Linked DNA regions of Homo sapiens: region 2 is linked to region 1. Evidence: fine-mapped expression QTL. A gene starts in region 1. The other region holds a variant in brackets. All regions are shown on one strand. Distances are from middle to middle. Region 1 holds the start of ERICH6 (glutamate rich 6). Region 2 has its middle 48 kb from the start of SIAH2.

Region 1 (5,377 bases):
ACATATTGAAACATCACACTGTATCCCATGAATATGTACAATTATGATGTGCCAATTAAAAACAAAATTAAAGAAAGGCAAACAAAATATCAAATGATGACAATAGGGAACAATTACATAACATTATATACTTGAGATAGGAAATTTTTTAAAAATCCATTACCTCTTGATATGGTTTGGCTCTGTTTCCTGACCCAAATCTCATCTTGAATTGTAATCCCCACATGTTGAGGGCAGGACCTGGTGGGAGGTGATCAGATCATGGGGGTGGTTTCCCTCATGCGGTTCTCGTGATAGTGAGGGAGTTCTCAATGAGATCTGATGGTTTAAAAGTGGCAGTTTCTGGCTGGGCATGGTGGCTCACACCTGTAATCCCAGCACTTTGGGAGGCCAAGGCGGGTGGATTACCTGAGGGCAGAAGATCGAGACCATCCTGACTAACACGTGAAACCTCGTCTCTACTAAAAATACAAAAAATTAGCCAGGCGTAGTGGCGGGCGCCTGTAGTCCCAGCTACTCGGGATGCTGAGGCAGGAGAATGACGTGAACCCGGGAGGCCAAGCTTGCAGTGAGCCAAGATTGCGCCACTGCACTCCAGCCTGGGCAACAGAGTGAGACTCTGTCTCCAAAAAAAAAAAAGAAAAAGTGGCAGTTTCCCCTGCACTCTCTCTCTCCTGCCAACAAGTAAGATGTGCCTTGCTTCCCCTTCACCTTCAGCCATGATTGTAAGTTTCCTGCGGCCTCCCCAGTTATATGGAACTGAGTCAATTAAACCTGTTTATTTTATATATTACTCAGCCTCAGGCAATTCCTTATAGCAGTGTGAAATCGAACTAATATACCTTTGAAGCACTCAATACATTAGAAACATTTTCTAAACAGAGTTATGTGGTCCTAAAATAATAATAATAAAATACAAAATCAGTCCTCAGAAAATAGGCCAGACAGGATGACTCACACCTATAATCCCAGCACTTTGGGAGGCCAAGGTAGGAGGATTGAGTCCAGGAGTTCAAGACCAGCCTGGGTAACACATTGAGATGCCATCTTAGGAAAAAAAAAAAAGAAGAAGAAAATAAACAATAATTAAATTTTATCTCAAAATAGCCCCATAAATTAAGTGGAAAGGTACTGATATTTCCATTTAACACACCAAGAAACTGAGGCTCAGTAACCCCAAAGTCACAGTTAGTCAGGGCTGGTGCCTGGTTCTCAAATCTCAAGTTCCTGAGTCAAGCTAGACACCAGGAATGGAGAAGGGGAAAATATAAACTGACCCAGCATCATATTATCTCTGAACGGCCAAAACAAGAGTGGCATCAACTCATGAGAAAATAAGGGACTGTTCTTTCCGTAGTAAGTAGATCCAAGGGAAGGAGATTCCATAAAATGTTCAAAAAAGGTCTTAAATAGAGGGTCTAAACAAGGAGTACTTAAACAAATTAATTCACCACACAATTGAGAAAATGCCAGGGCAGTCACAGAACTGAGCTACAGCAGGCACAAGCGGAGTAAGCACAAGCACTGTCACCCTTGCTGTCTGCCAGCCCCGTGTCTCATCCCCACATCCTGACTTCCAGTCTGCTCTCTGAGGACCCTGGTTGAATTTCCTAACTTCTAAGATAGCTTCCAGCATCAAACTGTTAGTATTGTCCAGAAAAGAAATGAGCTTTTTCTTATTTTCTCTTTTTAAATTACACTTACCTTATTTGTACCTCAATATCTGTACACATAGTTCCCTGTCCTGACCCTCCTTTCCTGCCGTGAGCCTGCTGGAAAGCTTTTCACTTTCCTCTCTGGTCACCACATTTTGCCCTTCCTTTTAAAGCAACTCAGATGTCTCCTCTCATCTGTGCTGCCTGCTCCTTTAGCCTGCAAGAACTCTACTTTCAAAAATATTCCCTAGCCAGGCACAGTAGCTCACGTCTGTAATCCTAAGAACTTTGGGAGGCCCAGATGGGAGGATCTCTTGAGCCCAGGAGCTTGAGACCGAGAGTTTGAGACCAGCCTGGGCAACATAGCAAGACGCCATCTCTACAAAAAGTAGTCCCAGATACTCGGGAGGCTGAGGCGGGAGGATCAGCTTGAGCCGGGAGGAGGAGGTTGCGGTGAGCTGAGATAGCACCACTGCACTCCAGCCTGAGCGACAGGGTAAGACCCTGTCTCAAAATAAATATAATACAGGCCAGGCACTGTGGCTCACGCCTGTAATCCCAGCACTTTGGGAGGCTGAGGCAGGCAGATCACGAGGTCAGGAGATCGAGACCATCCTGGCTAACACGGTGAAACCCCATCTCTACTGAAAATGCAAAAAATTAGCCAGGCGTGGTGGCACGTGCCTGTAGTCCCAGCTACTCGGGAGGCTGAGGCAGGAGAATTGCTTGAACCCAGGAGGCTGAGGTTGCAGGGAGCCGATATGGTGCCACTGCACTCCAGCCTGGGTGACAGAGCGAGACTCCGTCTCAAAATAAATATAATATAATATAATATAATATAATATAATATAATATAATATAATATAATATATAAAATTGGCCAGGCGTGGTGACACACATTTGTTGTCCTTGCCACTTGGGAGACCGAGGTGGGAGGATCACTGGAGCCCAAGAGTTCAGGGCTGAAGTGAACCATGATGCCGCCACTGCACTCCAGCCTGGGTGACAGAGTGACATCCTGTCTCTCAAAAATAAAAAATGTATATATTTTACAAAAATGTAAGTAAATACAAAGTCCCAGAAGGACGCAGGTGGTACCTAGGTGGCCAGATGCTTCAGGACTTTTCTACTCCAGGATGGATAGATGGGCCAAGTAAGAAGCAGGACCCAGATCACAGCAAGGAGCAAAATTTATGGGACGCTAAAAATGTCGCCAATCAAGATTAATTAATATTAATCTAACAATATTTAAGATAACTAACATTTAAGGCAATTTTAATACGCTTATTAATATTTAAAGCTATTTTAAAAATATCCGCAAACGAGGGCCCAAGGGCTGGCGCCTGATTTTGTAAATAAAGTTTCACTGGACGTTCCAGCAAGCATCTGTCTACTCAATAACCAGACTCCAGCATCCGCAATACCAAATGGCACCGTGTGTGTCCGTCGCTAGAAGCCACTTCCTCCACCCAAGTTAAAAAAAAAAAAAAAGGCCCCAAATAAGCTGAGAGACGAAGAAAAGATCGTTTCTCCGCAGGCTGCCAGGGGTTTCAGAGACGCTGAAGAGCAGGGACAGAAAGAAGTCTGCGGTGGCCCCCACCGGCCCTCGGCACCCACATTCTATCCGGCTAACCAGCTCCTGCCGCTTTAAATCCGGGAGGCTCGGTGGCGCAGGGCAAGCAGTTGCCCGGGGAGACCAACGCACAACAGAGGCTCGCGCTCGCGAGAGCCGACCGGGGCCGCGGCCAAAGAGCTGGCTGTAATCCCGCCTCCCGCCAGCCATGGCCCACTTGCGCTCGCCTAGCGGCTTCGGAGACCCGGGGAAGAAGGACCAGAAGGAGTCAGAGGAGGAGTTAGAGGAGGAGGAGGAGGAGGAAGAGGTGGAGGAGGAGGAGGAAGAGGTGGAGGAGGAGGAGGAAGAGGTGGAGGAGGAGGAGGAGGAGGTGGTGGAGGAGGAGTTGGTGGGGGAAGAGCAGGAGTTGGAGGCCCCTGAGACGTTCAGCGAAGAGTACCTCTGGAAGGTCACGGACATCGGTGACTACGACGACGACTTCCCAGACGTGCGCCCCCGCTTAGCCAGCATCGTCAGCCCTAGCCTGACCTCTACGTTCGTGCCCAGCCAGAGCGCGACCAGCACTGAAACGCCGAGCGCAAGCCCACCCTCCAGCACCTCCTCGCATAAAAGTACCGCCCCCGACCCACCCCTTCCTCGAGGGTTTCTCGTCTCCAGGGGGCACCTGGTCCACCCACTCCTGGGTGGTGCCTTCGTCGACCTGCGCGTCGTGCCTGATTTCTAAATGCATGCACCATTCCACACACCTAATCTCTCTCACGCCCTTGTCAGAGACACTGAACCCTTGGCTGAGCTGTTGTGATGAGGCACGATTTAGGATATAGGCGAAACACCATAAAAGTTGAACTTGGGCATGGCTGTATGAAGTGCTTTTTTTTTTTTAGACAAGAGTCTCGCTCTGTCGCCCAGGCTGGAGTGCAGTGGCTGCAGCCTCGACCTCCTGGGCTCAAGCCTCCCACCGCAGCCTCTCGAGTAACTGGAACTACAGGCACACGCCACCACACCCAGCTAATCTGGCGTCTCACTATGTTGCCCAGGCTGCTGGGAGTGCTCATTTTTATAACATTTTTGCGTGCATTCACACCGTGACATCTCTCTCTCTCTCTCTCTCTGTTCCCCCTCCCCTCCCTCTTCCTCCCCTCCCTCTCCCCTCCCCCTCTCTTTCTCTCTCCCTCTCTCTCTCTCTCACAGACACACACACACACACACACACACACTCATATTATTTCCAGAGAAGTGCCTTAAGGGTGCTGTACTACTGAAACAGTCCTGCAAAAAAAAAAAACAACTCTCTTTTGTGTTTAACATCCTGTGCTGAAGCCACTCCAGTCACTTCCTTGAAAAAAGAAGCAGAGAAGTCTTCTAGAGTAGGCTTCTCAAGCTCTAGTGTTGACATTTTGGTCTGGATAATTCTTTGTTGGGGAGGATTGGGGACTGTCCTGTGAATTACAGGATATTTGGCAGCATCCCTGTCCTCTACCCGTGGCTGTGCTAGAAGCACACATCCTTGCGATGATCAAAAATGTCTCCAGGCCGGGCGCGGTGGCTCACGCCTGTGATCCCAGCACTTTGGGAGGCCTAGGCGGGCAGATCACGAGGTCGGGAGATCGAGACCATTCTGGCTAACATGGTGAAACCCCGTCTCTACTAAAAATACAAAAAATTAGCCGGGCGTGGCGGCGTGCGCCTGTAGTCCCAGCTACTTGGGAGGCTGAGGCAGGAGAATAGCGTGAACCCGGGAGGTGGAGCTTGCAGTGAGCCAAGATCGCGCCATTGCACTCCAGCCTAGGCGACAGAGCGAGACTCCGTCTCAAAAAAAAAAAAAAAAAAAAAAAAGTCTCCAGACATTGCCATGTGTTCCTGGGGGGGGTAGAATTGACCTTTTGATTTAGAGGGAATAGCTGATTTTTAAATGTTTCATTCAACAGGTTTCCCTAAAATATTTCAGACATTTAGGAAAGACATGTCTGAAATGAGTATAGATAGGTAAGAAAATGTTTTCAAATTTCACATTTTTTGAACCCAATAATGTTTACCTTTTGGATAAACATGTTAGGAAGTAGAGTAAAATAATCCAGGGCATTTGTGACTTACTTATTTTAAAAAGTTTTTTTTAAATATACACTGGTAGACACTTTGAAAGAGATAA
Region 2 (5,377 bases), 110 kb before region 1:
GTCCACCCTGCTGATGATGCCATGATGACCACCCTGGCATCAATATGGGACAAAATAAAAGACTGGCCATCTATACTGCCTCTGGCATATCTTGACCAAATAAAAGGGGAAATACAAACAAACAAGAAGTTCTAAGCCCTCCAACATACTAAATGGAACCCCTTCTTGGCCAAAGGAGATCCCCCCCAAAAACCTGAAAAACTAATTTAGGTTTTTACAGAAAGCAGGGGGCTGGACACACCTCATTATACCCTCCCCACTTTGGAATTCAGATGCAACTGACCAACATTAACGTTAAAATATAGATCATAAAACTGACAAAACAGACTCTTTGTAACAATAAGATACCAAATTATAAACAGGACCCAGGACCATGCCAGGCAACAGTGAAGTCGCGCACTCCTACACTTCAAAAGTTATGTTCTAGCTGCCACAAGGTGTTTCTTTTTCACGAGCAGCCAAATGAGTACTGGATTCAAGATAAGCTGACTGACCCCTACTCCCTGTTCACCAGGCATAACTACAGCTTTAATTAGACAAGAGTCTGATTTCAGTACATTTCTCCTGATAAAAAGGTCACTGACCATGGACAAATGTTGGCTGGTATACAGAAATTGCACACTCAACGTGTATTTTTGTACATACAGGGTCTAATTATAGTACATTTATATTTTAAGTCTCCATCCCAAAATAAACATGGGTCATATGTTACATACATATTTAATACACATGTGTCAAGACCAACTTTATGAATATTCATAGCCCCTCCTATAACCTGTTAAATATGTATATTTAGCCAACCTGTTGTCATATCCCCACAGGAACTCCAGGTACAACTGACAATGGGAACTGTCCACCGTAATTAAGACTAAATGCTGTGTATACTTCCTGCACAACTCTGGAAATACACCCTCAGCCCTACAAGACGTGCACAAGCAAACTAGTGCTATGTCTAATCCTGTCATGTCCTTAAATCAAGGGTTCTCCTCATAATTCAGATCAGGCCCCTCCTAGTAAAAGAAGTTGCTCATAATTTCAGCCATGATTTTAAAAATAAGTTTATTCTTCTACTGTGGACTCTATTGCTATTACACACTCACCACTCACACTCCAATAAATATCTTCTGTATTTTTCAGAAGTTTTCAAAAATTTTTCAAGGTCAGAGACTCAGAAAAGTTTTCAATTACAAGTGGACAGGTTTTCTTCTGTTGCCCCCTAGCTGTGCCCCCTTTTCAGTAGGAAGTAGTCAAATTGACATCTCCCACTTTCCATAAAAACGGAATATAATTTCACAGTGGGGAGCTGTAACCAAGTATCTAAGCCTCAAATTACATGTTAAGGTTTTTTCCCTTTCCTTCCTAATCTCGAAGTACAGCCTTGAAATGTACTTTAAAACTCTTCGCTTCCCTCCTTTCCCACCAGGCACTCCTGTGTACAGTGCTTGCTTATCTAATTATGTGCTTGCTTAGAAATTCTAGGGGCTAATTTTAAAGCAAATCAGACAGAGACTTGACTGCAGAATCCTCCCGCTTAGGGGAGTTATGAACAATGAATTCACCACCACCAGGCCAAAGTCAAGATGAGCCAACCAGACCTCCAGATGGGCAATTCCTCAAGATGACCATCAGGAAAAGGCACACAGACCTGTACCCTCCTGCATCACTCATCCATGTTTCTCATACCAAGTTTTCCTTCATTCAGTCCAAACAGCAGAGATGATTCCTTTGAGGCTGGTACCCAATCATTCTCCCGTCTGCTAGCATTTGAATAAAAGCTGCTTTCTTTTCACCACACCTCGCTTCTTGTGCTTTGACTTCTGAGTGGTAAACAGCCAGACTTGAGTCAGCTACCTCTCTATAGCCCCAAATCCAGTTTTACCACCACAGCGAGCTATGTGACTGGTGGGAGTGTCATAATCCTGGAGTGTACCATGGAGTGGAAGGTTAAGAACAAACCTGCATGTGTGTTGTTTTTTGTTTGTTTGTTTGTTTTTGAGACAGAGCCTGGCTTTGTTGCCCAGGCTGGAGTACAGTGGCACAATATCGGCTCACTGCAATCTC[C/T]GCCTCCTGGGCTCAAACAATTCTCCTTCCTCAGCCTCCCAAGTAGCTGGGACTACTACAGGTACGCACTACCACATCCAGCTAATTTTTGTATTTTTAGTAGGGACGGGATTTCACCATGCTGGCCAGGCTGATCTCGAACTCCTGACCTCAGGTGATCTGTCCGCCTCGGCCTCCCAAAGTGCTAGGATTACAGGTGTGAGCCACTGTGCCCAGCCCACATGTGTGATCTTTATTGAAAAACATACTGTGAAATAAAAACTGACCATGAAAATACAGAGCATATGTTTGCTACAACTGTTTATAAGACGACAGCTTTCTAACTGGGCTCAACTGGTTTTCCATCTCAAGATTGTACATACTGCTCCCCTCCCTCACCTCCACCCACTTATTTTGCACTCTCTAGAAAGAGAAGTTAAAATTCATAAGGCATTTTAACGCAGTGAACAGCACAGGGTTTTCCCTACCCATACTCTCTACCTGTCAGATACTGCAGGACAGAAGAATTCTAACCAAATTCCCTTTGTTATAATTTAAAAATATTTAGGAATATATTTAATGAAACTTTCTGACCTTTGATTTCTAGATGTAAATATGCTCATCCAGGAGTCTCTTGGGAATGGAAAATTTTATTTTATGACCTATATAATTATGAAATTCTTTCTTTCCTTCAGCACATTGCATTTTTTCCGACAGTTATAAAAGGAGTCATTCAATAGACAAGAACTTGACAGGAAAAATCAATTGAGCTTAACATTATTTGAAAACAATTAGACTATTTTCAAAAAGCATTTTTTATTTTCCATTTTGATTTAAAATAAACTTATACACTAATAGATCATATGCATCTGTAGAAGAATCTTGAAATTAAAATCAAGAATTCCCCATAAAGTCTAAACAGATTTCCCTTGTATCACAGAATAGATGAGTATCAGAAAAGTTGCTGCAAAACAACTCCTCCTTTCTCATATTCACTATAAAATAGGAGATGTGTCCATTGGAGAGAAAAAGCTTAGGTTTTATGAAATCAAGATGGCATCCAAATCCAGGGCATGCTGGGTAGTGCAGACTCCAGAGGGGTTAGACCTCATTGGAGTCATCCTGTCCATTTGCCCACTGAACACTGCAGAACCATCCTGACACCAGAGCTCTTCCCTCAGTCCTTTCATCTTTTTGTTGTCCTACTCCACAGGAATTTCTGCACAGTAGAAGAACCCCTGACTGAAATTCTGCTCCTTTCTTTCTTTAGTTGAAGAAATTAAAATGCTCTGACATGCCTTTGCTCATCTTTGCCGACTTATTCCTACACATGCTTCAAAAATCAGGTCAGATGCCTCCTCTTCCAGAAACCCTTCTCTGACAAACCATTCTCCTATTGTTCCACCAAACTGATTCAATAATACATACAATGACAGATTATTCCATCCACATTTTTTTTTTTTTTTTGAGATGGAGTCTCACTCTGCCACTCAGGCTGGAGTACAATGGCGCAATCTCAGCTCACTGCAACCTCCACCTCCCAGGATCAAGCGATTCTCCTGCCTCAGCCTCCTGAGTAGCTGGGATTACAGGCACGCACCACTATGCCGGGCTAATTTTTGTATTTTTAGTAGAGACGGGGTTTCACTGTGTTGGCCAGCCTGGATACTTCTTAATGTAAAGATTTTAGAGTCTGTAAAATAAATCACTATTTAATAAACTAAATATTTAACACTCCATATGTTGATTTTACTTAACCCAGTATAAATATAAAATAGACTCTATAGTGATTTTAAAATTCTCATTCACTGTGAAAGAATGAAAATTACGCCCAAATATTCATTTCCCTTCTTCTATATTACTACAGTAGTATTAAAAGTTTTCATCTGGACACACAGCCTCCCAGAATACATTTCCCAGGCTCCTGTGCAGCCAGATGTAGCTACATAACTCAGTCCTGGCCCAACTGTATGTGAGAAGAAGCTAGCAGTGCAAATACCAAGCTGGGTTCTTAAAGGGAAAGGGTGAATGCTCAATGTTATCAAATGGTACCAAACATGCTCAATAAATGTTAACTTAAAAAAAAAAAAGTAGGTATGACTAGAACCCAGAGGGCAATCTGAAGAGTTATCAGAGAGTAAGTAGGCTGGAAGGGATAGTCTATGAGCAAATCAAAGATTTTGGGATTTCATCCTAAAGCCTAAGGGAAACTCCAAAAAAAAATTTAAGCAGGAGGCTGACATGAGTCAGATAGATTTCTCCCTTAGAGTGCTCAATCTGGCAGCAGAGTAGCACATGGATCAAAAGAGTCAGGCCCTCTCTCCAAATGGACCACAGTAACTTTGCACAAAAACATTCCACACATTGCACCCCCTAAATACGTTTCGTGAAATCTAGAGGTGAAAATGGGGTAGACCAAGTAGTGTAAACAGATTATCTACCTGATAATGACAATTCACAACTGTCTGATGGGGGCTCGCTGCCTTGTCTCTGTGTAGGAAGGAAAGCATATTATTGCTTTTGTCATTATAAATCTATAATAACCTAAGTTGCTATGAAAAAAAAAGTCCTTGGTCATAAGACCAAGAGTATCATTTTCCACATAGGATTAAGCTATTACAGAACGGTGCCCCATGAACGGTATAAATTCACTAAAGCTCTTCTCAGGATGAAACCTGATCTATCTTAGTCTGGTTTTTCCACGCGAGTGTATCAGGAAAATCCTCAGGACTTTGCCCATTTGTTGACATCCTTTGGAAGACCCAAGAGTATTGAACAGAACACTGGGAGCAGATGCTGCTGGGGGGATCCTCCAGAAAATCTCCACCTGGAGTTGGACTGACCAGCCCTTTCCATGACATGATCTTCCTTCTTTCAGGAATGGGGGAAACCAGTACAATTGTGATCCTTTTGCTTAAGGAATACCAAGTAAGGCTTGGATACTCCCCTGTAAAATGTCTGCGTATCTGTGCTGAGGGAAAATAAATAATATATGCAAATCCTTGCTGGAAGGTTAGGGGAGGGCTTTCCTTCCCAAATAAAGTAAAATAAAAATCACTATGAACCAAGAGTTCATTTCTTCACGGGTCGTGAGTGTAAGCAAATTTACCAAAAGTCTGAAAGCTCTCCTGGGGAAGACAAAAAGCACTAGAGTACCACCTCCATTTTCTGAAAGGGTAGCCAGTCGGGTCTGCAGAGGCTCAGCTATAAAGGTATAAATGACTCCTTGGTTGTCTGCCCAAATCACCAAGGGAGCAAAACCAGCCTTCAAGGCCTCACCCCCTTCAGACAATTAAGTCTCATCTTCAAGCAGGGAATGGAAATGGGGCTGGTAATA

Evidence for each region. PIP is the estimated chance that this variant, and not a neighbour inherited with it, causes the effect.
Region 2: its variant is the best candidate, but not a certain one, in a credible set for the expression of ERICH6 in testis (GTEx, PIP 0.70).

Annotation. Positions count from the first base shown.
Region 1 is chr3:150,701,958-150,707,334 of GRCh38, reverse strand. ERICH6 (glutamate rich 6) reads left to right here and starts at 3,415. Exons shown (of 14, transcript NM_152394.5): 1 at 3,415-3,839; 2 at 5,157-5,214. The coding sequence starts at 3,437. It overlaps ERICH6-AS1 (ERICH6 antisense RNA 1), which reads right to left and starts at 3,771. Exons shown (of 3, transcript NR_121675.1): 1 at 3,668-3,771. RefSeq lists enhancers at 3,220-3,309, 3,460-3,539.
Region 2 is chr3:150,808,689-150,814,065 of GRCh38, reverse strand. No RefSeq gene overlaps it. Among named protein-coding and RNA genes, the nearest start is that of SIAH2, 48 kb to the right of the region's middle. The variant C/T (reference allele first, on the strand shown) is at 2,062.